Linked DNA regions of Homo sapiens: all the other regions are linked to region 1. The links come from fine-mapping of genetic effects on gene expression. A gene starts in region 1. Each other region holds a variant in brackets. All regions are shown on one strand. Distances are between the middles of the regions.

Region 1 (10,375 bases):
ATGGTAAATATGTGGGTAAATTTCAGACTATTTTTCTTTTTGATTAAATAGTACATATAGCTATCTAAAGTAAAAATTATAATATTGCATGATGAACTTTGTGTCTTCATAGATATAATGCGTATGACAACTAAAGAATGAAGGATGAAGAGAGAAGAGGTGGCTGCTGGGTAAGGCCACCTGTATGAGTCTAACAGTCTGCAAGGTTCTTACATTTTCCATGAAGTGCTACAATATTAATGCTAAGTGGACAAAAAAAATTAAGAATGTGTGTATTGTAATTCCTAAGCAATGACTAAAAATAGTTGAAAGAAATATAGGTAAAATGATAACATACAAATTACAATGGAATTCCAAAATCTCTTTTTTTCTAATTAAGCCAAAATAAGGTAAAAAAAAAAAAAAAAGAAGAAGAAGAAGAAACAAATGAGTAAAAAACAGATGGGAAGATATAAAACAAATAGTAAAATGGTAGACGTAAACCCAACCCCATCAATACTTACCTTATATGTAAGTAGAGTATCTTCTCAAATTAATACATGTTAATACCAGAGGAGGGGAAGTTTTCGACTTGTTTTATGAGTGCAGAATTACTTACTACCAAAGCCTGACAAAAGAAAATAAAAAGAAATTACAGATCAACATTACTCATAAACATAGACAAAAAAAACCTCTAACAAAATATTAGCAAATTGATCCAGCAATATATAAGAAAAGAGAATACATCTTGACCAAGCAAGATTTATCTCAAGAATCCAAAGTTAACATTAGACAATTAGCATTAGACCACTGATCAGTGTAATTTATTAAATTAACAGAATAAAGAAAAAACCATGTACAATAGACGCAGAAGTACTATTTGATAAAATTTAACACAAATTCATTTTAAAATTTCTCAGCACATTGGGAATAGAAGGTAGCATCCTTAATCTTCTGAAAGGCACATGTGAAAAACCTACAGCTAACCTCATACTTTATAATGGAAGACCAAGTGTTTTTCTTGTAAGATTGGGAACAAAGTGAGGCTCTCCATTCTCACCACATTTATTCACCATTTTACTGGGCGTCCTAGTCAGTGCAATAAAATAAGTGAAAGAAACAAAAGCATACATTTCAGAAAGGAAGAAGTAAAACTCTATTCGCAGATGGCATAATTGTTTATGTAGAAAATCTAAAGGAATCTATACAACAATGACTAGAACTAATGAGGAAATTTAGCAAGATTGCAGGATACCAGATTAATATAAAAGTTCATTTACCTTTATATATAATCAGCAAATTGTTGGAAATTTAAACATAAAAATATCAATTTTAGTAGCTTCTAAAACTAAGGTATTTAGGAATAAATTTAACATGAGGCATATAATACCTACACGGTGAAAAATGTGAAAATGTTATGAAAGAAATATCTATATAATTGGAGAGATATACTATGTTCATGGATTAAAAGCTTAATAGTGATTCAATATCAGTTCTCTCCAAATTGATATATGGAGTAAAAAAAATACCAGTAAGAATTCCACCAGGTTGTTTGGAGAATATGAGAGCTAATTGTGATATTTCTCTAGAAAGTCAAAGTAACTAAAATATTCAAACCACTCTTGAAAAAGAAGAACGTACTTGGACACTTTTTACTGCCTGACTTCAAACACATTGGGTCTTGATATGCAATGGAAGCAAGTGAGTGGAAGAAGCTAGCACCACCTAAAATCTCTTCTGGTGAGAGTGGCAGCATTCTTGAGGAGTGGGGATGATGTTCTAATTACAGTGTCTCATACCTGGCTCCAGTGGTATTGGCAGCATGTGCTGGAGATGTACGTCCAGCAGGGTTGCAGTGCCATGCATACTGGACCGCTTAGGTGGTGTGACTTTAGGCACTTAGCCTCTAAGTGGTATGCATGATCCTCCTGATGATACTATGTGTTACCTAATAATCAATGATGAATTCATTTTCTGCTTAAATTAGCCAACGTTGCTTTGTTTTTTATTAGCAACAGGGAACTCTGACTGATAGAAATGCCAGGAAGAAAAATAGAAAGGTGAAAGGACAAAGGAGGACTAGGGCTGTATTTGGATAAGGGCATAAGAATGAACTTCTTAGCCGGGCGCGGTGGATCACGCCTGTAATCCCAGCACTTTGGGAGGCCGAGGCGGGAGGATCACCTGAGGTTGAGAGTTTGAGACCAGGCTGACCAACATGGAGAAACCCTGTCTCTACTAAAAATACAAAATTAACTGGGCATGGTGGCGCATGCCTGTAGTCCCAGCTACTCAGGAAGCTGAGGCAAGAGAATCGCTTGAACCTAGGAGGTGGAGGTTGTGGTGAGCCAAGATAGCACTATTGTGCTCCAGCCTGGGCAACAAGAGTGAAACTCCATCTCAAAAAAAAAAAAAAAAAAAAAAATGAATGAATTTCTTGGCCAGGTATGGTGGCTTACGGCAGTAATCCCAGCACTTTGGGGAACCAGGGCAGATGGATTGCTTGAGTCCAGGAGATTGACACCAGCCTGGGCAACATGGTGAAACCTCATCTCTATTATTAAATAAATAAATAATAAAAAAGAATGAATTTCTCTGAGGAGGTGGCATTTAAACAAAGACCATATTACTCCATTTTAGTTTGTAAAGAAACAAATATTCCATATGTGTATGAATGTCTAAATGAGCATATCAAACTATGAATAGATAATTGTGGTAGGCTGATAATGGATTCCAAAGATACGTCCACATCCTAATCCCTGGAACCTGTAAATGTTACCTTATATGAAAAAAAGGGTCTGTGCAGATGTGACTAAATTGGAGAACTTGAGATGAAGAGGTCATCCTGGATTATCCAGGTGGGCCCTAAATTCATTCAAAATATCCTTACAAGAGACTGGCAAACGAAGATTACACACAGAAAAGAAGAGGCACAGTGATCACAGAAACAGAGACTACAGTGATGTGGCACAAAATGCCAATAGTCACTAGAAGCTTCAAGGGGCAAGAAACAGACTCTTCCCTAGAGCTTCTAGAGGGAACATGATCCTGCTGACACCTTGATTTTGGCTCAGTGAAACTGATGTTGAACTTCTGGCTTTGAGGACCTTGTTTTAAGCTATCAAATTTGTGTTGATTTGTACAGCAGCCCCAGAAAACTAACACAATAATATATTTGATTATAAAACTGATTATCTGAAGGGAGAATGAGAGGTAGAGATTACAAGAGGAGCGGAGGATAGGGATATGAATAGACTTTATGTAAATTAAAAGTAGATGGACACATAAGAACATAGATTTTTTTGAGAACATAAAGAACAAGATTTGCATTAAACATGCAAGAATTATTGCAAATGGGGAGAGGAATGAGAATGGAGATACAAGGAAATAGATGGCAACAGAAATGAAACATTCAATTGGCAAGATACAGTTGGCAAGATTCAGTTGGCAAAAATTCAGATGGCAAGATACAGTTAGGGATACTTCCTATAACATGGAGGAAAAAAAAAGAAAAAATAATAACTAGCCAGGTGTGGTGGCACAGGCCTATAGTCCCACCTACTCGGGAGGCTGAGGTGGGAGGATCAGTTGAGCTCAGGAATTTGAGGTTGCAGTGAGCCATTATATGTCATGGTAGCTTGGGAAACAGAGTGAGACCCTGTCTAAAAAAAATAAAATAAAATAAAAGAGAGAAGAAAAAGAGAAATAAGTAAAAGGACCAGTTTGGGTGACCCAACATTCACATAAAGTGCAGTCCAGAAAGAAAATAAAAGAGGAAATGTAATCATCAAAGAAATCATTCAAGAAAATTTCCCTCTACAGATTGATGTTAGATTGAAGAGAAAGCATAGAGTTAAATGAGATTGGAGAAGCTGTCAGGGGTTAGATCATAAAGATTTCATAAGGCTACTTTAGGGAAACTTTGCTAGATTGGAACTTTCTTTTCTTTTCTTTTTTTTTTTTTTTTTTTTTTTTTGAGATGGAGTTTCACTCTTGTTGCCCAGGCTGGAGCACAATGGTGCTGTCTTGGCTCACCACAACCTCTGCCTCCTAGGTTCAAGCGATTCTCCTGCCTCAGCTTCCCGAGTAGCTGGGACTACAGGCATGCGCCACCATGCCCAGCTAATTTTGTATTTTTAGTAGAGACAGGGTTTCTCCATGTTGGTCAGCCTGGTCTCAAACTCTCGACCTCAGGTGATTTGCCTGCCTCGGCCTCCCAAAGTGCTAGGATTACAGGCGTGAGCCACAGCACCTGGCTTAGAGTGGAACTTTCTGTTCAGAGTGGTTCTCTAGGTTCTCCTTTACAACTTGCCCACTGGGGAATTTTTTTTTTTTTTTTTTTGAGATGGAGTCTCGCTCGGTTGCCCAGGCTGGAGTGCAATGGCATGATCTCTGCTCACTGCAACCTCCGAGTCCCAGGTTCAAGCGATTCTCCTGCCTCAGTCTCCTGAGTAGCTGGGTGCCATCATGCCCAGCTAATTTTTGTATTTTTGTAGAGACGGGGTTTCACCGTGTTGGTCAGGCAGGTCTCGAACTTCTGACCTCGTGACCCGCCCACCTCGGCCTCCCAAAGTGCTGGGATTACAGGCGTGAGCCACCGCGCCCGGCCCTCACTGGGGAGTTTTTACATAACCTTCAAGAACCAAGGTAACATCACTTCCTCAGGAAGTCATCCAGGACCCATTTGCCAAAGTAAATGGTTCTTCCAATATGTTTGTATACAACCGATTGCATTATAGTAGATTATTAATTAGTGTGAATTTCATCTGCTAGAAGGTGTGCTACTTGAGGGCAGAGTCTGGATGGGGCTCATTCCTCTTTAAATTCATAATGCCTGGCACAAAGTGGTAACTCAGTCTTTTGTTTTGCTTTGGCTTCAAAACAAGAATTTCCCAGTCCTTAAACTTTATTTATTTATTTGAGACAGAGTTTCGCTTTTTCACCCAGGCTGGAATGAGGTGGCACAGTAATTACAAACTTACTATCAGCCATACTGTGTACTGGAACTGACCTTGTACAGTGGATCTGAGGCAGATTCTCAGTCGATAAAGCTACCCTCACACAATTCTTTTGGATCTTGGCTCACTGTAACCTCCGCCTCCCAGGTTCAAACGATTCTCCTGCCTCAGCCTCCCTAGTAGCTGGGATTACAGGTGCCTGCCACCACGCCTGGCTGATTTTTTTGTATTTTTATAGTAGAGACAGGGTTTCACCATGTTGGCCGGGCTGGTCTAGAACTCCTGACCTCAGGTGAGCTGCCCACCTCGGCCTCCCAAACTGCTGGGATTACAGGCATGAGCCACCGTGTCCAGCCAGTCCTCGAGCTTTAACACTTCCCAAATAGTAAATACGGTGAAAATAAGTGAAACCTATTTTTTATGCAAGAAAACTGTGAGTGTGAGAGTAAGGTAGCAGCCATCATGTTCATGTGCTAACTACTAACACACTTTATCGCCAATGCTCACAGCCGCCCTACGAGATAAACATTATAATCTCAGTTGTACAGGTAGAGAAACTGACCTTGTCATCCAAAGTTACACACTGCCAGCAAGTGCCCTGGCTTGAATCCCTGGCACCTGCCTCCAGAGGTCGCACTCCTAGCCACTTCGCCATGCTTCCTCGATATTCATTAGTATTCTTGCAAATATTTTTCGACTCCAGGTGCTTCACATAGGTTAATTCATTTCCGGTTCAATAGTGTCTGGCTTCAGTAATTACGAACACTACCGCATTTACCCACTGTGAAAAATAATTCACTCTTTCAAAGTTCCTGTATAACCTAATTTTCTAATTCACTTTTGTGTCTTTCAGTTGAGGTACTCCCTGCCTTTTCTGTGTCTACATAAGCTTCCTTTCTTTCGTTTCGTAGGAATAAATTGAACTTATTTTAAGATTGAGGGGGGTACAGCTGTATGGAATATAGACTCATCTTTTTTCACTCTCTGTCACAGAATGAAAAAGGACACCATGATATAGCAGCTGAGGTGGTGGATTAAGATAATGAGGCGGGGGGGGGGCGCAAAACAAAAAAAAAAGGAGCCTTGCTCCACCCCTGCCCCGCCCCCGGCCTCCTCCCGGGGACCCAGAGTCCTGGAAGGCTTTGGGGAGCTCCGGGCCGGGCGGATCGCTGCCTGCAGGGAGTCGGGGATGCCAGGTTCCAGCTGAGCAGCGGCCGCCCGCCAGAGTGCCAGTGGCTCCTTGGAGGTCGAGTCCAAGGACGTGGCTTGAAGCCGGGAGCTGGGGCGCCGGAGTCCACGCACCGGGGATGGAGGCGCTGGGTGACCTGGAGGGACCACGCGCACCAGGAGGTGACCATGAATTGCGTGGCCGGGAGCCCGGAGACCAGCGGCGGCTTCCGGCGTGTCTCTTTAGCAACGATTGAATTGCTTATAGCTTGATCTGTTTCCGAGAGATTGGAAAAGGCTGGGGCCTGATCGTGGGGTTCGGGCCAGCGTTTCTTTTCTCTCTGGACGGGGTAAAGTTCCAGGATTGGATATGTGTCACGGTTTCTAATGACTTTCTAACCTATACCTCTGCTTTTTAAGTACTGTGTGTTTAATGCATTCAAATAAGTATGCCATTAGGCAAATGTAAAACGTTACCTTTCAAGTACCCATTGTTGTTGCCTTTCTTTTTAACTTTCATTTCCCTTTCTCATCTACTACAAACATTTTACAAAGATTCGTAAGACTTCCTCATGTTGCACTGATTTTTTTTTTCCTTCTGGACTGCAATGGCAACCTCTGACAAATAGAGCAAAGCAAATGTATTTCTCTTAAGTTTTTCCTAAAAACAATTTAATTTATAAATGGCTGATGGATTTGCTTGGATATTTGGAACTCAGTAATTGATTTCGTGTTTTTAAATGACAATTTAGCCCTGGAAATAAGTGTTAAATTAACTGATGTAAAAGACCAGTAATTAGGGTAAAAAAAAAGTATTTATTTATGAATTTGTGGGACTTGTCTATCCAGAAGCATACCGCTGTAAATATTAATTCACCAGCTGAATGATTTAGCTTGTTTTCTCCTACTTACACTTCATTTGACTTCAATACTGCCTTAGAAATCTTTGTTTTTTGTTTTTGTTTTTGTTTTTGTTTGTTTGTTTTGTTTTGCTTTTTTGAGACGGAGTCTCTCTCTGTAGCCCAGGCTGGAGTGCAGTGGTGCGATCTTGGCTCACTGCAAGCTCCGCCTCCCGGGTTCACGCCATTCTCCTGCCTCAGCCTCCCGAGTAGCTGGGATACAGGGGCCCGCCACCACGCCCGGCTAATTTTTTGTATTTTTAGTAGAGACGGGGTTTCACCGTGTTAGCCAGGATGGTCTCGATCTCCTGACCTCGTGATCCGCCTGCCTCGGCCTCCCAAAGTTCTGGGATTACAGGCGTGAGCCACCGTGCCCAGCCGAAAGCAGTACGTTTTCAAAACGGCAGTAATGTACAAGGATTGTGTTCCATTTGATCAAATGTGCTATATTCAAAATAGCCCTAAGCTTAGCAAATGATATCTTCAGAGTGCAACATATGTGCACAGAAATCACATTTGTGTACTTTAATCAGTAGTCTCAATTATATGCCTAATTGCTGCATGTTTGCATTCAAGGTGATGATCCTGCAGGAAGTGCAGGAGAGACCCCCGGGTGGCTTTCGAGAGAACAGGTTTTTGTACTGATATCGGCAGCTTCGGTGAACTTAGGTTCCATGATGTGCTATTCTATACTTGGACCGTTTTTCCCCAAAGAGGTAAGACATTTTTAAATCCTTAGGACCTCTGTTTTTTTGTTTGTTTGTTTTTTAAAAGCCTTTTGAATTATTTTATTTTATAGTATATAAAATGTAAAAATCTGCATATAGGACAGATGGTGTATAGAACTCCAGCCAATAGAATACTTCTTATAGAATGCCTGATACCAGGAAAAAAAATCCAGTCAAAAAGAACATCTTCTTGGGAGGTAATTCACCTAAAAGTAGTTGATCTTCTGAGAATTACTTTTCTTACCATGTAGTCTGATTAATCTTTATTTGGTTTCTGCAACTGAAACAAAGGAGTGCACTGAATAACTGAGATTCAAATGTTACTGCAATAGGTCTGTGTTAAGACAGTAACTATTTTCTCGAGGTTTTATTCACATTTTAGAATTAGGACGTTTTGATTCCCGACCCCCCTTCCTTTTTTTTTTTTTTTTTTTTTTCCTTTCGAGACAGGGTTTCGCTCTTGTTGCCCAGGCTGGAGTGCAATGTTGTGATCTTGGCTCACTGCAACCTCTGCCTCCCGGGTTCAATTGATTCTCCTGCCTCAGCCTCCCGAGTAGCTGGGATTACAGGCGCCTACCACCACGTCCGGGTAATTTTTTTTTTTTTTTTTTTTTTGAGATGGAGTCTCGCACTCTCGCCCAGGCTGGAGTGCAGTGGCGCGATCTCGGCTCACTGCAAGCTCCGCCTCCTGAGTTCACGCCATTCTCCTGCCTCAGCCTCCCAAGTAGCTGGGACTACAGGTACCCGCCACTACGCCCAGCTAATTTTTTTTTTTGTATTGTTTTAGTAGAGACGGGGTTTCACCGTGTTAGCCAGGATGGTCTCCATCTCCTGACCTCATGATCTGCCCGCCTCCGCCTCCCGAAGTGCTGGGATTACAGGCGTGAGTCACCGTGCCCGGCCGAATTTTTGTATTTTTAGTAGAGACAGGTTTTTGCCATGTTGGGCAGTCTGGCTTCGATCTCCTGACCTCAGGTGATCTGCTTACCTTGGCCTCCCAAAGTGCTGGGATAACAGGCGTGAGCCACCACGCCCAGCCCCGGCCCCGCTCCATATTCCCTCTTTTGACTTTAATTTCTTATGGACTCTAGCGCCAATGTTTATGCAAGGGAGGAATTCTGATTAATAGGGCCTATTCCTTCTAGGCATAGCCTTTTATATGGTGTTAAGATTTATAGCTAATGACACAGATTCAAAGATAATAATCCCTAGAAAGTCCAACTGGATTCTAGACGTCAATAGGATATAGTATGAAATGAATATGACTGGCTTGGAGTGTAGACAACATATCCATGTGTTTTATTTTGTGCTTTTTGCCAAATCCTTGGCTCACAGTGCAGTGGAAGCTTGTTAGTCCTCCAACTGCCTTTTAAACATGTAGTCCTTCGTTCTGTGTGTTACAAAAGAAGATAAAGTGGCTTCTCTGCTAAAGGAACAATATTGCCATGTACCCATACAGTGCTCTCTGGCTTCTAGTACACATTACCCCTTATTTATCCATTTAATCCCCGCAACAACCTCATACAGAATCTTGAGAATCTCAGCATGTTGCAAATGAAGAAACGGTCTCAGAAGTTGTGACTTGCCCAATTCAGTTCTATTAACTAGAGGTTTAATGAGTCCCTTCTCTAGAGCAGGCTAAGCATGGGATGTGTTAGGGTAGTATAAAAAAATCAGGGAAATGGCTTTCTCTTGTCTGCCCTTTGGGAGTGAAAAAATATGGGAAAAAAAAGGTTCCAATAATTTGGATATCCCTTAAGAAAAGGATGTCCAGAATGTTATAAGACTGTTTTTTTTTTTCTTTTTTTAAATCATTTTCTTCTGGCTTCCCTCTATCCATACTAATGTTATGAGAGCCTAGAAAGAAGAATGGTTAATTCTGCCATACATGGAGTGTGGATAGCAGAAGAAAGGGCGTTACTGAAAGGAACTTTCAGGCTAAATCTAAGTTGGGGCTTTTTTTTTGAGACAGGGTTTCACTCTGTCATCGAGGCTGAAAGTACAGTGGCATGATCAGAGTTCACTGCTGCCTCAACTTCCCAGGCTCAAGAGATCCTTTCGCCTCAGCCCCCTGAGGAGCTGGGGCACAGGCATGTGCCACCACGCCTAGCTATTTTTTTCTATTTTTAGTAGAGATGGGGTTTCACCATGTTGCCCAGGCTGATGTTGAGCTCCTGAGCTCAAGCAATCCGTCCACCATGTTGGCCAGGCCTCTCAAATGCTGGGATTACAGGTGTGAGCCACCGCACCTGGCCTAAGGTGGGCCCTAAGAAGTGTTAATTCTTATGGTGAACAACAGAGATGGAGGTGTTCTAGGTATAGTCACAGGAAGAGCAGAGTGAATGGCATGTTCCTGGGGAACAACAGACAGCTTCTTGATGTGGCTTGAGCCTGGGGTGAAGTGAGGTCTAATAGGAGACAGTGGATCTGAGGAGGCAGGCCTAAGATAGAAAGGAAGGGCACTTGTCAAGGACTTAGTCAGTGGGCAGTCATCAGAGGTGTTTGAGCAAGAAAGAGCAGTCTGGCCAGACTTGGGATTTTTAAATAATAATAATAACAATAATAATGCCAGGCATGGTGGCTCACGCCTGTAATCCCAGCACTTTGGGAGGCTGAGGTGGGAGGATCACCTGAGGTCAGGAGT
Region 2 (10,375 bases), 37 kb after region 1:
ACTCCATCTCTACTAAAAATACAAAAGTTAGCTGGGCATGGTGGTGTGCGCCTATAGTCCCAGCTACTTGGGAGGCTTAGGCAGGAGAATTGCTTGAACCCGGGAGAAGGAGGTTGCAGTGAGCCGAAATTGCGCCACTGCACTCCACCCTGGTGACAGAGCAAGACTCCGTCTCAAAAAAAAAAAAAAAAAAAAAAGTCACAGAAAAGTTTAAAAAATATGAGAAAAGACAGAGGAAAGAACACTTTGAACAAGAAAACCAAAAGGTAGGTCAAAACTATCAAAGGAAATCTCTGTGTATGTGTTTGTATTTTTATATATTTATAGTCTTCTAAATGTAACAAGGCTGAGCAGCTTAAAAGAACCTTTTTAATAATGAGAATATTCTATATAACTGAATGTGGAATATGTTAGTAATAAAAGGAATCTTTTATGTTAAGATCATATTGCAACCTATACATTATAATATGATACATAAATCAATCCAAAGGAAAACTAAAAAGGTTAAATACAAATCACAGATCATTTTTAAAAATTAAACTTTAAAAATTTTGAGATAATTGTTAATTCACATGCAGTTGTAAGAAATAATAGAAAAAGATCATGAGTATTCTTTCCCTGGTTTTCACCAATGATAACATCTTGCAGAACTATAGTACAATAGCACAACCAGGATACAGAACATTCCCATCGCCACATTCTTCACGTTGTCTTTTTGTAGCTACACCCACTTCCCTCCCATCTTCACTTCTGGCAGCCACTAATCTCTTCTCCATTTCTATCATCTGGTCATTTCAAGAAACGTATAAATGAAATCGTATTGTATGAAACTTTTTGGATTGGCTTTTTTCAGTCAGCATAATGCCCTTGAGTTCTATTGGCATTGTTGCATGTATCAATAGTTCAGTTCTTTAAATTGCTGAGTAGTATTCCATTGGGTGGCTTTAAGACACAATGGAATACTACTTTATTTGTTACAAATAAAGCAGCTATGAACTTTCAGAAACAGGTTTTTTGTTTGTTTGTTTGTTTGTTTTTGCCAGGGGCGAGGGTAGAGGGTGGGATATGAAGCATAAGACTTCACTTCTCTGGAATAAATGCCCAGCAATACAACTGCTGAGTTGCGTGATAATTGCATGATTAGTTTGTTTTCAACTAACTCATTTATTTTAGATAAGAAACTTGATTTTGACAATAAATATTAAATATCACGCATTAATGAAATATCTGGTCAGCCATGGTGGCTCATGCCTATAATCCCAGCACTTTGGGAGGCCGAGGTGGGCGGATCACCTGAAGTCAGGAGTTCAGGACCAGCCTGGCAAACATGGTGAAACTCCATCTCTACAAAAAAATACAAAAATTAGCCGGGCATGGTAATGCCAGCTACTCAGGAGGCTGAGGCAGGAGAATCGCTTGAACCTGGGAGACGGAGGTTCCAGTGAGTTGAGATCACGCCACTACACTCCAGCCTGGGTGACAGAGCAAGACTCTGTCTCAAAATAAATAAATAAATAAATAAATAAATAAATAAGAAATATCCTATTTACTTATTTGTTTAATGATCAAGATTTAAATACGTCACAGATACCCTCTCTAACCTAGCTGGAAAAGATGTGGATAATAAATTCTTATATAGCCAATCAACTTTCATTAAGTGCAATTAATAATTGAGAAGTATCTCTACACATTCATATCAGAAGGAAATTACCCACAGGGTAGTCCCATGATACTCACCATTTCTTTGGTGTCACTGTCACATGACCCCGTTTTATGAAACAAACCCACAGGAGGGGAGGCTCAGACACAACATATTTACATGGAGAAGCTAAAATGTTATTTAAAGTATTAACAAAGGAAACTAAATTCTGCATAGCCAATCTTCATTAAGAGCAGCTTGCAACTCCTAAATATTTGCAGTAGTTTCTTTCAGAAAACCTACAGCTGGACTTCTAATCCCAGCTTACTTATAGTTGAGTATTACAAGGGACCACCTAGGAAAGCATGATGTCATAACAAATTTTGACTTGTAGCTCAGTGCAATTTTATCATCAGTACTAAAACAATTCAGAGTGTATTTCATGTTGATGATAGGTCAACAATAGCATGCCAGACACAAAAAGCAGTATATTATATCATTTGTTTTTGTCAGTCAAGACAAAAATTGAATACCGAATCAATCAAGTAACATTATTGTATATTTCAAAAATGACAGCCATGAAATCAGTTATTGCATAAATACAGGTAGGTTTTTTTTTCTTTTAAGAGAATTAAAGCCAGTGTAGATAAATCTTTCATCTGAGAATAGTACTAATACCTTTTCTTCTCCCTATATTTTCAGAACTTTTGGCTATGATTATTTCTTCTATTGTTTTCTGTTCTATCACCATGTTTATTGGTCGGCTTTTGTCTCTTTCGTTTTAGTTATCTGATAAAAATGCGAATGGCTTGGTGGTTCGTGTCTTGGTTGTTAGTAAGCTGGGTCCAGCCTGTAGTTCTGGAACACGATTTAGTGAGGGAGACAGGGATGTGAATTAGGAAGTAGGCAATCATCTCATGCAGTAAGACAGCTATGGCATTGGATCGTATGCTTGCTACTGCATCTTCTGGAAAAACAGTATTATTGCAGTAAAGCAACATTATTAATTGGAAAGAACTGCATGGGAAAGGAGGATCTGCCCACAGATTCTTCATTCATATAGCTGTGAGAATTAAGAATTTGTCTTAATAATAAATTTATTAAATTTATCTTTAACATCTTAAATTATCTTAATTTATCTTAAGATCTGCCCACAGCTTCTTCATTCATATAGCTGTAGGAATTTATCATAACACAGCACTGAAAACTTTGGTGAGATGATTCAGAAGAGTGAGAATTTCCAATTGATATTGTGCATGAATTGATCTTTCCATATAAACAAACTCCATTCAGTAGAACTATGGCATACGACTCACATTTTAAGGTGTTTAAAAAATGCAGACAAATGCCAGACTTCCATTTTTCTGTTTTTGCATGTAGTCACTGTGGTTAATGTTTTAGCCTACAAGAAACTGAAGAAACAGCTCATAAAGAATTTCTTCCCCTACTGGAGCCTCTAAATTCCTGTCCTGTCAGCCTTCCCCAGAGGAAGGATAAGCAGGGTAAAGGAGGTGCTATGATCCTGCCCTGCCTCCATGCCTGGCTGCCACCCAGAGAGGGAAAGGAGTAGAGCCATGATTCACTTTTCAGAGAGCTGCCAAGCTGTTTTCTAGAGTGGCTGTACCATCCTACATTCCCAACAGCAATGTGTGAGTAATCCAGTTACACAGCAGGTTGTTTAGCATGTTTTTTAAAAAATAGAATGGTGCATGAAATAGGTGGAGTGAAAGCTTTTTATCAGAAAGAGAATCTGTGGTACAAATGGAGGGAATGCCATCAAGATTAGCAAGTAGAAACAGAATTTAAGTTCATAATTTTAGGAGAAACCATTCAGATCAGGTTGACCTGGAAGAAAGGAAACTTGAAAGACTTTGTGGAGACAGACAGAACAATGCAAACATAAAGAAGTAGACACATTGACATTCTTTTAACAAGACAGTAACCAAGGACAGGTGGTTATGTCACCAAACCCTGGGTAAAAGCTGCCTTGGGCATGGCTCTTGTAATAGGGCCTCCATCTTGTAGGAATGAAGCAATAGTAATAATAGCAAAAATTATTCAGCACGTATCACCATTGTGCAGATAGAGGAAACTGAGGCACAGAGAGGGCACAAAACTTGCTCATAGTCACATAGCTAGGAAGTGGCTCAATCCCAGGCATTCTGGCCCCAGAGTCCATGTCCATGTTAATTATTATTAGATACCACCATGACCCTTATAACTTACAGTGAGAAAAAAGCTCTCCATAACTAGATGCAGGACCATACACAATTTAGTTCTCTCTAATTTGAAGGACAGTCTGGAGTGGGATCTGTCTTACAGTAAAAGAATAATGTGCTAAAGAGAAAGACTATGACATGAATATGAGAGTCGACTTAGGCTTTGTAGGCTAGAGAATCTCCTGATTCTATTGCTGTGGTTCCTCTGCTGAGCTTGGTTCAGTAGAAATTGTGTCAATGCTCCTCGCCTGTGTCATCTGGCCCATACAACTCCTTGAAAGAAAAGCTCAGGAATCAGAATTGCCAGGCTAGAATAAAATAGACACTCTTTCTCCTGGTGTCTGACTGAAGATGCAGCATCCTTGAACCAGCAGCTGCTGGGACTCCTGTCTGTCATCTCAAAGGGTACGGCCCACCCAGAAAGTGAAATCAAAACAGGAAGTCACCAGGGGTGACTGGAGGAGCACAGGCCTTGGAAAGGAAAGCAGCTGAGATCCAGAGGAGTGGAAGGCTCCCCCTTGACTAAAGCTGTAAGTAGTTACCTTGGGCTGCAAACATTATTTTTTCTTTGCTTCCTTGCTCACTGAAAATAAACAAGTGGCATTATTGGTGGATTGCTGTGACATTCTCATATTGATCAATAAGACATAAACTTTTCTATTTTTAATCTATCTTTTTTTTTTTTAAGTCTGCGATTTCCATGATATTTTCTTACCATACCCTTTCAAACGCATGTCTCTCCAACTGCCTACATAAATCAACGAGTGACTTGGATCCAGTTCCTGTGGATTTATTTCTGTGGTGACAGTCATCCCGACTTTACCAAAAGCTTTTAATTCAGTCAAGAGAATTTTTAATTTTTTAAAAGGACCGGCTGGTGAATGCAAGAAACTTTTGGCAGGGTTAATAGACTGGCATAGTGGGTGGACCTATGAGATTAATATTGTTAATATTTTATTTTAAGGAAGCAGGAGCTGTCGGAAAGTAGGGGAGGATGCTACTAACTCAAAGGGACTTCTGCAACTTCAACCCTAAGTTTCTGAGACAGGAAAACAGACATGTTGGTTGAACCATGTGAAATTACTTTTGCTAGGTCAAAAACAGTGATGATTGGCAATTTCATGTTGCACAAGCATTTCCATCTAGCAGTGCTTTCAGAGAATCCAAGGCTGTGATATATCATTACCTTCTCAGATTTGCTCTGGTTTCAGCTGTGTTCATTAGCTATCTGAAGCATTGAACACCCATCCAACTCTAAAG[C/G]TGGAAGATTACCTCATCTGAATGAGACCTGGCCCCAAAAGATGGTTAAAGTTCAAGCTGGTTCTTTTCAAGGCAACCTTGCCTTTTACAGGGCCTGACTCAGTCTCACTAAAGCCATATGTAATACTCCAATGGTGTAGAGACAGAAACGTTTTTCTTTGCCATTAAGTACTTTTTTTGGATACAGTATTGTACTTTTTTGGTATACAGTATTAAGAGGAACAGTTTTAACACTGGAGCCTGGCTTTTCTGCCTATTGTTGCTTCTTATTCTTATTTTGACGTGTCACCCTTGCTGCCTGTGAGAATGTCATTGATAATAATACATGATATTTCCCATTCTTTGTTTCTCAGTTCACTTGTCATTTTGCATTCAGGAGAAGGGACAGAACAGGAAGTCCAGTAGCCAGTGTCAGAGCCTGGAGCAGCTCCTCTCCTTCCTGGGGTTGAGTTCCTTGGTTTTCTTGTTTCACCTTTGCTACCCCACTGCAGTTTTTCTACCACGCTGGGTTTAGCACGAATCAGGAGTTGATGCCCAGGTACCCTGTCAACCCCATTTCATTCCAGCAGTTCTTCAGCACGGTCATCCAAATAGACTAGAATTTGAATTGAACAACAGTAGTTCTGTGGGCCTAACAATGAAATAATATTAAGCAGTCAGGATATTATATTACTAAATAGTCACTCACTTTTGTTAATTATTGTCATCTGCGTTGTAGTCTTACAGAGGACTTTCACATATCTTTAGGAGATAGAGCAGGTATGATTACCTAAACTTTTAGATGAGAAATAGAGGTCCAAAGAAGTGGTGCAAAGCAGAAACTACACCCCTATGCTTACTCTTGAGAAAGTGGGAAAAAAATGAGGTTTTTAAAATTAAAGACCTAAAACCTAGTCCAATTGAACATTATTCTAACAGATGATCAGATTCACAATTAGAAACAAATATTTGAGCTATTACTGTTTTTCGTTTATTTGCTTGTTTTTTATTTTTGAGACAGAGTCTCACTCTGTCACGCAGGCTGGAGTGCAATGGTGCTATCTCGGCTCACTGCAACCTCCTCCTCCTGGGTTCAAGCAATTCTCCCGCCTCAGCCTCCTGAGTAGCTGGGATTACAGGCGTCTGCCACCATGCCCAGCTAGTTTTTGTATTTTTAGTAGAGACTGGCTTTCACTATGTCGGCCAGGCTGGGCTCGAACTCCTGACCTCAAATAATTCGCCCGCCTCGGCCTCCCAAAGTGCAGGGATTACAACCATGAGTCACTGCGCCCACCCCAATACTGTTTTTTTTTTTTTTATGGTGACTCTTTGACCAAATAATTTTTAATTGATTTTAACTTTTTACCCCTTTAGCTAAGTTCATTAATCCCAAAATGGCAAATTAGGAAGTAGGCTCTTTTAGCAACGAATTACAATTAATCAATGTTCCCTGTGGCAAAATAACCTTACTTTATTTTATAATTCAGTTAAACTAAAAATTTTAATCTTTACCTGATCAATCATCTTTATGAAAAGTCAACTATTGAAACTGTATGTCCTGAATTTGGTTTTTTACTTCTGAAGATTTAAAACAATATCAATGACCTCTACAGCAAATATTTTCTTCACATCTCAGGGATTTTCCTATATTTAAATTGCTCCTTCATTTACTAACTTCTAATTCTTTTTTGCAATTACCTTTGTTACTCAAATTCTCAGTTTCAATGAGACAATTTTTAGATGCTTCAAATAAAAAAACAAAGGAGGGAATTTAGTCATCTTGATTTTATATCAGAAGTGATTTTCCCTTTCCCTGTTAGCCAAACAAAAAATCCAAAACTCTGATCAACATCATTTCTATCTTTTACAGCCAAGGACAGAGAAAAACATCCAGATTTGGGAACACAATAACAGATATGATTGTCCCCACTTCTACTGCCAAAATTATAAAACTGTTAACTCCTCCTCATCAGCTTACCTGACTACTTAAAAGCAAAAGAGTTAATTAAGTATTACTAATTGGTGATACTAGATCAATGAAGGTAGGTCATGGCCCAAATTGTACTTATGGAGATGGAAGAGCTTAATTGTTTTTATTAGGCATCAACTGCATCAGAAATTTCATTAGCACTTAGCAAATTTGCCTATGGTCTTCTTAAGGTGATCATTTTGAATTGGGTTCTTTAAAAGACATGAATGACTGGCTGCAGTGACTGACACCTATAATCTCAGCACTTTCAGAAGCCAAGGTGGGTGGATTGCTTGAGCTCGGGAGTTTGAAACAAGCCTGGGCAACATGGTGAAACTTCCTCTCTACAAAAAATAACAAAAATTAGCCTGACATGTTGGTGCGTACCTGGTGTTCCAGCTACTAGCGAGGCTGAGGTGGAAGGATCACTTGAGCCTGGGAGGTGGAGGCTGAAGTGAGCCATGATCATACCACTGCACTCCAGCCTGAGCAATAGAGCAAGACTCTGTCTCAAAACAAAAAAACAAAAAACAAAAAAACCCCAAAAGACACGAGTGTTCAGACACTCAGTTGCAGACATTAAAAGAGAGCACAGACACATGTGCTGTTTTAGGTATAAAGGAAAGACTCTGGAATCAGGAATGAGAAGCGAACATCCTGCTCTGTCGCTCTAGCTCTCTATGCCTCAGATTCCTATCCTGTAATAAGTGGGCATTTGGGTTACATGATTTCTAAACTCTAACAGCACTCATAATCTATTATATACCAATCACCTATGCTAATTTACTAATTATACACTAGATAGTATGGTTATATACTAACAGTCTATTATACAATCTGCTAAAAATTCATAAAAATATCTATCCCTTTACATTTTCCACAAAAGGGCTTGACCATTTTTCCTGAATTATTTTTAGTTTTCTGCTCTATAGAGATAAGAAAAGTTATTCCTTTAATAGAAACTTCTATTCAAAGCAGAAAATATGAGCAGATCTTATTTATAGCCCCTAGGCCCCATTCTTAACAAAACATTTATCTCAGTAAGAAGGAAAGCACAGAATAAACTTTGTTTAATCGTACCTACTCTTCTATGCTGTCTAAAAGCATTTCCGTGACTTTTACCAAAGGGCTGGATAAAAATAAAACAAATCCTTTATTTGGCAGGATTGGGCCTGGGGAAGGGAGAATATGAATGTCCTAAGAAGGCATCTGAGATCACATCCTGTATTTGTTGTTATTATTGTTTTTTTTTTTTTTTTTTTTTTTGAGACGGAGTTTCGCTCTGTCGCCCAGCCTGGAGCGCAATGGTGTGATCTCAGCTCACTGCAGCCTCTGCCTCCTGGGTTCCAGCGATTCTCCTGCCTCAGCCTCCCGAGTAGCTGGGATTACAGGCGCCCACCACCACGACCAGCTACTTTTTGTGTTTTTGGTAGAGATGGGGGGTTCCACTATGTTGGCCAGGCTGGTCTTGAACTCCTGACCTCAGGTGATCTGCCTGCCTCGGCCTCCCAAAGTGCTAGGATTACAGGCATGAGCCACTGCACCTGGCCTGTTAGCATTGTTTTTAAACTCATTGTTGTTATTTGCTGCTAACAAAAATGTAAGTTACATCTTCTCCTTATTACAACACAGATGATCTTTATCACCAATCCTGGACTCTTCCCCTTCCCTGGCATCTTCCTCCAAAGCAGGGGGTGGGGAGGGAGGAAAAAGAAGGAGGAGAAGGAGTAGGAGGAGAAGGAGAAGTAGGGGGAGGATGGGGAGGGAAGGGTGAAAGAGAGAAAGAAGGAAAGAAGCGGAGTATCCTGAGGCCTGGGGCCCCTGAGCTGAGATTCCTCCTCTGGCCTAGGTGCCTCGGGGTATTGTTGCTGTAGGCACTAACTATACAGCAGTGAACAAACCAGACACAAAATCCTGCTTTTCTGGAGCACATGTTTTCAGTCCTTAATAGCAATAAGTAAGTCAGAGTGTAGATTTGGGTAAATTTTGTTATCAATATTGTCCTGTGTTACATTTTCTTAGTAGTAAGTATTTAATATTTTCCCCCCCGTCTAAAAATAAACACAATGTAAGTGACTCAACAGAACCAAAAAAATTGTTGTCAATTTTTAAATTTAATAAATGAGATATTTGTTGGGATGTGATTTTTTTACACGAGAGTTAGTTATGAGTTTCTATTAACAAAAGCTGGAATTGTTCTATATTTGAATTCGGGTGTCTTTTGGAAATTCAATATTAAATCTTAGTACTAATAGTACATGCTGTTCAATCCCTGTAATACTTTCTGATTGTCTTAAATGGACTGCAACTTTTCTTTCTTTAAAAGTGGTCAGATATATTGCGTTCTTAAGATTATAAAGTAGGCCAAGTGCAGTGGCTCACGCCTGTAATCCCAGCACTTTGAGAGGCTGAGGTGGATGGATCACAAGATCAGGAGTTTGAGACCAGCCTGGCCAATATTGTGAAACCCCATCTCTACTAAAAATACAAAAATTAGCTGGACGTGGTGGCGCGCACCTGTAGTCCTAGCTGTTTCAGAGACTGAAGAAGGACAATCGCTTGAACCTGGGAGGTGGAAGTTGTAGTGAGCTGAGCTTGCGCCACTGCATTCCAGCCTGGGTGACAGAGCAAACTCCGCCTCAAAAAAAAAAAAAAAAAAAAAAAAGAAGAAGAAGAAGAAGAAGAAGAAGAAGAAGAAGAAGAAAAATGATGATAAAGTAAAAGGCCAGTAACTGGCAGCCACATGTTATGCAAACATTCTCCCCTCTGTAAATACTACATGAATGTTATTTTTGCTTTCAGAAATCACTAAACCTTGGCCATGGTCACTTCCTCTTTTCCAATCTCTGTGGCAGTTTTTGCCCTAATAACCCTGCAGGTTGGTACTCAGGACAGTTTTATAGCTGCAGTGTATGAACATGCTGTCATTTTGCCAAATAAAACAGAAACACCAGTTTCTCAGGAGGATGCCTTGAATCTCATGAACGAGAATATAGACATTCTGGAGACAGCGATCAAGCAGGCAGCTGAGCAGGTATTCTCTTATTTCTGTTAATCATAATGTACACGAGGGGCATGGGAGCTGGTGGAAGACGAGAGAGCTGAATTGTCTGTGTTGTACATGGAAAAATCATTTTTATTTTGCTTGTTTTGAACAGGGTGCTCGAATCATTGTGACTCCAGAAGATGCACTTTATGGATGGAAATTTACCAGGGAAACTGTTTTCCCTTATCTGGAGGATATCCCAGACCCTCAGGTGAACTGGATTCCGTGTCAAGACCCCCACAGGTATTTTAACTATCTTAGTC
Region 3 (10,375 bases), 320 kb after region 1:
AGCAGACCCACGTGGAACAGAATGGATCTTCATTGCTGTAGAAGAGCCAGAAACGGGACACTGTTTTGTTTTTGATGACCCAGTAGTGCATCTTTTTCGGATGTGTAGGAAATGGTATTATTTTTCTGTTATGAAAAATGTAACATACTCTTTGAAGTCACGTCTGTGGAAGTGAGTAGTGGTACAGATAGTTCAAAATTGTAGATAATGCAAAAATAATTTTTTCTTTGTATTCTCGTAGAGACACATGTTGATTTAATCCTACCTGTATGCATTAGATGAACTTTTCTTCAAGAAACTGTTTATTCTTAATTCTTTTTATGGTTGGAAAGACTGCGGCTTGTTTCATGAGTTTTTTTCTTTAATTGGACCTATGCCAATCAAAATAGAAGATGACTGTCCTATAAATTCATAGCACCTAAGGCTAGATAATGAAGTGAAATCCTACAGACTGGACTTGGGAGAAAGTAGGAGGATTATTTATTTTTCCAGATCACCATACTGCTTGTCATCTGACTAGAAACCTCTTATCTCCCTTTCTCTAAGCTTATTTTTCTCAAGCATTTTTGAACATGGTCAATTGGGGTGTCGCAGAAGATCCTGTGAACCACATATCCTACTATCCATACCTTCTAGAAGGGGAAGAACTTAGGAGATGGCCAAAAACCAGAGAGTAATAACATGATAGAGTGCTAACAATATTTTTGCAGCAAATATGCTATAAAAATGCTCATCCAAAACAATGAAAAAGTGTTTTGTTTCTAAATTAGTATAAGAGCAGCAGATGAAAATGAGGTACTCAAGCCAGCACCTATGATGGGTGAATAGCATATTCTGAGAATCAAAGAACTTCAACTCAGTGTACATGCATGTTCAATGGAAATTTTGTGACATTGTTAAATATTTTACTAGATAGACTTAATGCAGTGACTGCAGTAGGCCCTCCTTTTCCATGGATTCTGCATGGATTCAACTAACCATGGAACAAAAATATTCAGAAAAATTTTAAAAATAAAACACAGTACACTATAACAATTTACATAGCATTTATTATATATTAGGTATTGTAAGTTGTGTAGAGGTGATTTCCAGGAGGATGTGCATAGGTTATATGCAAATACTATGCCATTTTATATTAGAAACTTGAGCATCTGCAGATTTTGTTGTCTTTGGGAGGTGGATGGAGGGAGGCATGGAACCAATCCTCTAGGGATAGTGAAGGATGACAGTACATTCAAATAACATGCCAAGTTGAGTTTTTAAATACAAGGTTTTAGTAATTTTTAATAACTGAGGACAAAGACTGGCCAACTTTCCCTGTAAAGGGCAGATTCTTTTAGACTTTCTTTCATTTTCTTTTTTTTTTTCTTTTTTGTTAACCCTTTAAAACTGTAGCAACAGTTCTTAGCTTGGAAGTCTGTACAAAACCAGGTTTCAGGCTCTACGGGCCATAATTTGTTGACCCTGGTGTAGGAGGCTAATGCTAGTAGTATATAAAATCAAGTCTGTGGAATCTTGGCAGTTCATAAAACCCAGAGAAAGAGCAGGCGTTTCTTCCTTGATCACTTTCAGCTGGGAAGAAGGATCCTTGTGATCCACTGCCAGACCTAAACTTACTTTGAGCACTGCTGGAAACATCTAACATCTCAATTCAACTCCTTCAAATTACTTCTTCAATCTAGACACACTTATTTTTTCTTTGTTTGCTTTGTCAACTGTCACACACCTGGATTATGAAATAATGTGTTTTAACATCTTTTACTTTCAGTCCTTTTAGCACATTGAAAAAAGTTTTTTGAAAACCAAGAAATCTACATTCTAACCCTAGCTCTTGTACTAAATAGCTATAGTTTTTGGAACAAGTTATTCTGTCTGGTTCTCAACTTCTTTGTTTATAAAATAGGATTGAACTAATACCGTATAATATTTTTTCCAAATTTGATTTAGTAGTTTCAGATTTATGTTCCTATAAGCCCTTTATCACCTGATCAGATGATGCCTTTAATTGATCCTCAAGTGTAGACCTGCTCAATTTAAAGGAATGCAACCAAATTAATGTTCACGTTCAGAAGCCCTCTCGCTGTGCCTGGTACGTAGCAGATGCCCAGTAAATGTTTGTCGAGTGAATCAATGAATGAATAATAAATGGGCATAACTACCTTTCTTAACTCTCCATTTATTTATGCTGTATGTTTTAGAAATATATATTATTTCTTACGTACGTTTTGATCTTCCCAGTATTCTTTTTATGGTTCACTCATAAAACTATTCATTGAGGGTCAACAATATGATAAATTCTGGAAAAACCAAAATGAATAAAACTTAGGCCTTGCCTTCAAGAAATTTGCCTTCTAGTTAGGGTGACTAATAGGTATTCTGATCATTTCAGTGTAGGTCTGAGTATGATATTAGAGGTTTGAATCTCCAAACTGAAATGTCCTATTTCTTACCCTTCAAACCATTACAAATGCCACCTTCATTACAGCTTTTTGGATTGTCCTCCAATAGAACACACATATTATAGGTCATTGTTTGAAACATTGTTATAGCATTTGTTGCTGCTGCACCCTCTTTGAGTTTATATGGTGTTTGTACTTTTGGGGTTTTTTTGTCCTTTTCTAGTTTGTATGCTGCATAAGTGTAGGGGGCCTTGTCTTCCATTTCTGTTCATGAGAAGCTCTCATTAGTTAAATGCATTCTATTAGGCAATAACATAATGGTTGTTTTCTGAGAGGCTTCATTTTATGAGACATTGTATTATCTTAAAAAATTGTTTCAGAGTGACAAGGAGGTTGTTAGCCAGAGCCTTTGATTTTTAAGAAATTTCAGTATCTATAAAACCTAAATCTACAAAACCAAAAGCACAGAGTAAATGTAGCTTTTGATTATAACTAGATTGTTAGTGATAGTGACTAATACTTTCATTATTAATCACCTGTATGATAATGAAGGTAAGCAATGTTCAAAGAATCTTAAAACAGTTTTGTTGCTTTAGCAACCAGTTTTTTTCCCCCTCCAAAGATTGGCTCTGTGGTGCTACTTCTCAGTGGTCATATTATAACCAAAAAGATCCCAATCTAATAGTAGTTTTGGGTATTAGGTGGCCCAAAATAAATTTCACTATAATTTATCCCTTTTGTTTTCTACAGTGAACACGCCTCCTTTTTTCATACCTAAGCTTAAAAACAAAAGCTCCTGCGTGACACACTGCTGCTATCCCTCATGCAACGAGAACTCCTTTCCCATTTCCACAGAAGGGATAAAACTGAGGTCTATTCAGTTCCTGTAGCCAATGCCAAATTTAGGGGGTGATTTCCTGTGTGCTCCTCCTCTTTCAGCAAAACTGAACAGCAGTATTCCTTAGCCTGTGGAACAGTGTCTCAGAGTAACCACAAATGGTACATTCTATATATAACAGTGGAGGAAATAGGGAAGGAGACGAACAGTTAATATATCTAAATATATACATTGCAGAGCAAGAAAAAGAATACTGGCAGGTGCTAAGTTACCACTCTACAACTGATCACAGGCTGCAGTTTGTATTACTATTTTCCTGTTATAATAACCATTCCACTTTCCTCTTGCCTTCTTTCAGCACCTCTGCTGTTTGGGATAACCCAGATTTTCAGCCCTGGGTCCTTGTTGCTCCTGCTCACAGGCTATGTGGTACTCACTTTTATGAGTGAAGATGGCAGTATTATCAGGCCCCCTCCAGTTCATCTCCCTTTTACTTGTGTATGAGCGTACCCCAAATTCCGCTTAATAATTACCTCAATCAACATACTACCTTGGCCCTAAATGACCAGTTGTAGTCTTGAAAACGTGATTGTTTTCCTCCCTTGGATGTTGTCTCTAAGTCACCTTGAGAGATGGAAAAAATTGTACAAATGGATAATTAGGTGTAATCGTGAAATATTGGACTTTACTTCGACCTGTTACTTCCCAAATCCAAGTTTCTTTCTGGCTGTAGGTGAAACAGCACCATGGAGTGGTGGTTCTTTGAGACCATAAGGATCCTTCAGTTTCCCAAGATGCTTGTCTCCCAGGTGGTGCCAGGATTGAGTCTCAGTAGGCCGTAAACATTCTAGAAGTCCAGCAGCTTCTAGATAACAGAATACATGGCAGAGCAGTGAATCCCATTGTCCTTGGAACACCGTTAATTTTTTTTCTCTGTAATTTCTTGAGCAGAAGCATCGGTGTGTGGAACACCTTGATTGTGACTAATAGGTGGATTAGGAGTCTGGTAGAAGCATGGGGTCGGGGGAGTGGGGACGGGCCACAGGGGGCACAGTGGGTGCTTAGAGGATGCATAACAGAACCCAGAGTAATACCATTGAAGTGAATATAAAATTCTGCCTCCTCCAAGATGGAAGGAGCAGCTAGTTGGGTCAACCCTCAACAACGGCACATCACTAGTTTACTTTTTATTTTTAAATTAGCACGTTATTGAAAGTGTTTGTAAAGATAATTAGCCATAGAAAATAAAATGGGTAAAATCATCTCTGTAGAGCGTATGGATGTGCATCTGGGAAGTCCAAAGGATGAATGAAAAAATTAATACAAAAAATCAAACAAAAATGATTTAATAGAGTATAACATGAGATTGCTATTGCTGCAAATTGGTGTACGGCAATACCCATGGTCATGTCAGTCTGAGTAAGAGGAAATCCATATTGTTGAGTCTATATGTGGCTTTTGTTCTGACAGCCATTGCTAGTTTATTATTTCACTGAACAAGTGCTTCAGGAGTTGGGGTGAGGGATAGGCTGACTGACATACGTAGAGCAAAATGTAGAAAGGCTGTACCAACAAGATACAATTCATGGTGAACAGCTAGAGTCACTTGGTTACCTTGTACCATTGTTTATTCTATCCAGGGCTCAGTAGCAAGGCCAGAACAAGTCTCAAAAGGAAGGTTTTGCTCCAACATTCTAAGGGACCCCTGTGTTTTTCCTATTGGGATTTGCTACTAGTTTTCTTCGGTGCCCTGAAATTGCACAGGCTTGATGTACCATTGCATCAGCTGGGTCATTAAAGCCAAGTTGTAGATCTGCTTATACCACCACTTGAACTCGCTGGATGGTCTTTTCTTTTTGGGAGTTGAAGCTAAAGCTGGTAACCTTTGGGTCATTCAGTAAAGGGTGGAAGCAGCATAAAAAGTCTGTTTCTCATTTGTACTTGAGGCTACAAAGAAAAGCACTTTGCAGAAGTATGCCAGTTATCTACAGATTAATTCACCAAGATTTTTCACTGAGGAAACACTGCCCTGTATTTTCATGGATTTATTTTCTACCTGCTGGCTTACTTATGCTTTGCAGGCATCTAAGAGTACATGTTGCCTCCTGCTTTTCTGGTCCTAAAAGCAGACGTAACCAGTGTATTGGACTAATGTAGTGTCCTGTAGGAGGAGATGATCCGTATCCTTGACAACGAAATTGTAGTACAAAGATAGACAGTGTGCATAACCGTGAGATAAGCCTGTGAAGGCTCGCTGATGTCCCATCCCATTGATAGCAAATCCTTTCTCATGTTCTCTGTCCTTTAGGGTAGAGCAAAAAGTATTTGCCATATAAGCAGGTATATACAGGTTGCTAGAGATTGTGATGCTCTGTTGTAGTAAATCCATCACATTTTGAGGAACAGTGCAGTTGGAGTCACCACCTGAATAAGCTTTTGCTAGTTATCATGAGCATTAGCCTTCTGCATTCTCCAGATAGGCCGGTTAAATGGGAATGAGAGGCATGTCCACTCCCTGCTCTTTCTGTCCTTGATGGTGGCATTTCTGAGTAATTCCCAGGGAATAGATAATGCCCTTGGTTTTATTTTTTTATTAGAGTGGGTCCCCAGGGGCTTCCAATGATTTCTTCCTTCCATAAGAG[C/T]CCTTACTCAGGGAGTATGAGTGAGAACTGGGGGTTGCTCAGTATATCTGTTCAGAAACCGGAAATTACCACATGGTGGAACTAGGCTCCCATTGGGCCTGTCAGAATCCATTTCTACTCAATTCTTTAATTGGCTGAGTAATTTTATATAGCATTCATGTGGTGTACTTGTTTGTACTTTGCAAAATTGATATGCATTTCGGTCCTTTTTTTGCTATTCAGTTTATTCATGAATATTAAAGTTCCTATTCTTGGCCCATTTTTCTTTTTTTTTATTATACTTTAAGTTCTGGGATACATGTACAGAACGTGCATGTTTGTTATATAGATATACACGTGTCTTGGCCCATTTTTCTACTGGATTGTCTGACATTTTCTAAATTATTTATAGTTATTGACTATTGCTCCCTCTTTCTTATATATTATGTAGTCTTTACCTTTTGTTTTTAAGGCCTTTGATTGTAATTATATTCTCAACTGCTTTTCATAATTTTTACCAATCAGAAACATAAAAGTTTAATTATCAGTGAAGTTGAAGTTTTGTTATGTACACATTTGCCTTTTGTAAATTGCAAGATTATAACCTTTGTCCATTTTTTACTGGGCTGTTGTTCTGTTACCAAAAATAATTACCATTGTAGTTTAACCTCTTTCCTCATCATAACCTGCAGTTACTGTCTCCTGTGTGTATATGAACACACACTTACATATATACTTGTGATATATGTACACATTTTTTGTATAACATTTAACCAAGTTATTTTATGTAGTCAAATTTGTCAATATTTTCCTCTGTGGATTTTAGTTTTGTGTCATGCTTAGCTAATATTTTATATCTCTTACTCCAAGATCATGTATAAGATCATATAATAAAAACATTTATATTTCTTAGAGCAGTTTAATATTTTCAATTTTACTATTTAAATTAATGGTTTATTAAAAATGTATTTTGCTATATGCTGGGAGGTAGGGTTCTTTCTCCCCTGCCCAAATGGTTAGTCAGTTTTCCTGGTGTCATTTATTAAATAATTTATTTTTTCTCACTTGCTATGATTTTTTCCTAAAGAACAATAACACTTTAGAGTTGAGATAAATACCTGCCAATAGTCTATCGATGCCCATACTACAGTTTGTATTATCAATACGCTTAAGAAAATAAAGCCCCTATAAGGCAGTTCAAGAAAATCTGTTGAGGTTGAGAGGGAATATATAGCTAATTATAAGCAGCCATAAGTTAAACACGGCAAACAAAATTTGTTTGTCTTATGAAAGGAAAAATCAACCCCCAAAAAGCAAAAATAAATTCCTATTAAATTAGCCAAATGCTAAGAGTTGCTATATGCTTTGATTCTTCTCTAGTGTTTCTGTTTTTCAGCTTTCACTTAAAAGCAGTATTTATTACATCATTCGCGGTGACCAAAATTATCCTGCATTTTGTAATACTTTATCATTCCCTTGAGCATGTAAATAATGAATAGTTTTAAAGCATTTAAGCTATATAAGTAAACCACTCATTTAAATAAAAAGAATGAGGGGGTTAGATTGTTAAGAGTTCTTTGGATTTTCAGCTTATTTCTACTTGACGTTTTATTTATGTACCATGACATTTTATTTATGTCCCCACATACATAAAACTGTAGGTCCTCCCCTTTTGTGTAGAGCCTTTTTTAAAAAAATTGCAATAGTCATAGACTTCCGGATTGTGAGTTTAACATGACTTTTAAGCCCTGGACTTTTTATTTTAAAATCTTTTCTAAACCTCACAAAATATATATATAAGTATATAGTACAATGAACCTTTCACCTGGATTTGCCAGTTGTGGGCATTTTTCAACTTTTGTTTAATGTGTTTTTTACTTTCTGTATTCAAATTTCTCCAGTTGTCCCTATGATTTTCTTTATAGTGCTTGCTTTTTTCCTGATTCAGAATCCAGTCAAAAATCATACAGTGTCTTTTGGGTATTTTAATTCCTTAATTTAGAAAGCACCTCTGTCTTTGTCAACTTTTTTTTTCCCTTTTGTGACATTGACGTCTTTAAATGCCCAGGCAAGTTATCTCGTAGATTGTCCCACAGTCTAGACTGGTCTAATTTCTTTTTGTGATTAGATTCATGTTAAATATTTTGGCAAGAAAAATCCTCAGATCATATTGTGGCTTTCTCGCTGCAGCATGCCACAAGGTTCATAATGTCAGTTTTTTCCATTCTCACTGCTAAATTTGGTCATTTGTTTTCAGACAACAGATTTATATATGATAAAGTTATATCTTTTGTAATTAATGTCATCTGTGTGGTGGTAATTTAAGTTGTATGAATGTCCTGTGATTTTAGCATTTTTTGATGACCTTGCTGAAATCAGTTATTACATGGATAATTGAAAAATGATTTTTTGTAATTCTATTCCTCTCATTTATTAACAATAACTTATTTATATTATATTCTAATGAAATATGTAATTGTTACTTATTTCCTCACAATTTTTATGCTAGTAGTGTTAAAGTCTGTGTGCCCTTGTATTTACTTAATAATATCCTGATGGGATAAGGAAGAAGATAGTATTTTTGGGTCATAAGTGCATTTTCACAAGTTAACATTCTCACACAATTTCCTCTTGAAAATTTTTGTTACTAATTAGATTTAAGTAAACCATTTAGTTATTCTTTTTTCCAGTTAATATTTTCTATTTTCATCTTTGTTTTTCTGTCTCTTTTCAACTGCCCAATTGCTTGTACATATTAATTTTTAACTCTTTCTGTTACCTTAACTTTTGTGACAATTAATACATGAATTTTCTATTATAATAGCTGTGGAAATACAAAGAACTCTGAATCAACTTGGAACACCTCAAGATTCACCTGAATTGAGGCAACAGTTGTAAGTATCTAGTTAAATAAATAAAAGAGAAAGAAAAAACTCTATTGCTATTATTCTGTTGCTTTTACAGTATGTAGTATATTATGTTTACTGGAAGAAAAAATGGAAAAACAATGGAGTTTTTCTGCTACCTTATCCATACATTTGTACCAAGCTTTTGTGTAGATTTTTCCCTGTCTGGAGTAGGCAGGTGTTTTTATATTAAAGATCTGGAAGACTGAGGTGGGCAGATCACAAGTTCAGGAGTTCGAGACCAACCTGGCCAATATGGTGAAACCCCGTCTCTACTGAAAATAAAAAAATTAGCCAGGCGTGGTGGCGAGCTTCTGTAGTCCTAGCTACTCAGGAGCCTGAGGCAGGTGAATCTCTTGAACCCGGGTGGCGGAGGTTGCAGTGAGCCGAGATCACACCACTGCACTTCAGCCTGGGCGACTGAGCAAGACTCTGTCTTAAAAAAAAAAAAAAAATTCCTTGATAGGCTTACCCTATCAAAGCAGAATTTCTTTAGTTGCATTTCTTACAGTTTTTAGGTAGGTTGTTTTTGACAGCTGTTGAAAAATTATACTCTAGTATCTCAATTTATGTGATTTACTTTCCATAGCTAAAAATCCCCGCAGTCACCAGAGTTTTATTTGGTTTAGATCCAATACATAACCAGCTACGTGAGCTGTCTCCCCACAAGTTTATACCTACATCCTTGAATTTCAGAGAGCATTAGCTTCCGTTTAAAAAAAAGTTATAATGAATTATATAGTACATATTCCAGTAAATTAATATGCTGTTAGAAGACCAGCAGTCATAGTGATAATATTTTGTCTGTGGTATGTTGTGGATTTTACAGAGTATTTTTACATATTTTATCATTTAAACCTTACAGAATTAGAGTAAGAGAAATAGACCAAAAGAACTGTTTCCATTTTGTTCATGTCTCTTACGGGTTTAACGAGTTACCCAATGTCATTTAGAACTTAACTCTTAAATTTTATTTCAGTACTGTTACAGCTGTAAATTTCAAGTCACATATATCTAGTAAGCAATACTTCTAAACAACATTAACTATAGAGGGAAAACTGCAAAGAGGACGATATTAAAAGATAGGTAATAGGAATTCATATTTTTAGGAAGTACAATTTGAAGGACTTACAATTATCTCTAATTTATATTTTATTTTTCCACAGTGGGTAAGTGTCAGAATGGTAAAAATGCTCCAAATCTAAATAATAAACCACAATTCATTAAACTAAAGTAAAATGGAATAGAAGTACATAATTCATAAAAGTTCTAATATTTTGATAGAGTTAATAATGAAGATTCTGAATATATATCCGTAGTCACTAAGGATTTTTTTTTTTTTTTTTTTTTTTTGAGACAGGATCTCATGCTGTCACCCAGGCTGGAGTGCAGTGACATTATCACGGTTCACTGCAGCCTGGACCTCCTAGGCTCAATCGATTCTCCCACCTCAGCCTACTGTGTAGCTGGGAATACAGGCACATCCACCATGCCTGGCTAATTTTTGTATTTTTTGTAGAGATGGTGTTTTGCCATGTTGCCGGCACTGGTCTTCAATTCTGGGCTCAGACAGTCCACCCACCTCACCCTCCCAGAGTGCTGTGATTACAG

What was found.
Region 2: its variant is fine-mapped to the expression of SLC18B1 in fibroblasts (GTEx, PIP above 0.99).
Region 3: its variant is fine-mapped to the expression of SLC18B1 in T cells (TOPMed, PIP 0.98).

What each region holds. Positions count from the first base shown.
Region 1 is chr6:132,794,326-132,804,700 of GRCh38, reverse strand. SLC18B1 (solute carrier family 18 member B1) reads left to right here and starts at 6,064. Exons shown (of 14, transcript NM_052831.3): 1 at 6,064-6,287; 2 at 7,580-7,719. The coding sequence starts at 6,245. It overlaps LOC107986644 (a long non-coding RNA gene), which reads left to right. Exons shown (of 3, transcript XR_001744345.3): 2 at 1-3; 3 at 113-343. RefSeq lists a silencer at 5,997-6,046 and an enhancer at 7,278-7,778.
Region 2 is chr6:132,757,396-132,767,770 of GRCh38, reverse strand. It overlaps VNN2 (vanin 2), which reads left to right and starts at 9,867. Exons shown (of 7, transcript NM_004665.6): 1 at 9,867-10,100; 2 at 10,225-10,355. The coding sequence starts at 9,888. It also overlaps the pseudogene RBM11P1. RefSeq lists enhancers at 4,302-4,401, 7,331-7,520. The variant C/G (reference allele first, on the strand shown) is at 5,119.
Region 3 is chr6:132,473,970-132,484,344 of GRCh38, reverse strand. It overlaps STX7 (syntaxin 7), which reads left to right. Exons shown (of 10, transcript NM_003569.3): 3 at 8,683-8,752. Among named protein-coding and RNA genes, the nearest start is that of STX7, 34 kb to the left of the region's middle. The variant C/T (reference allele first, on the strand shown) is at 5,880.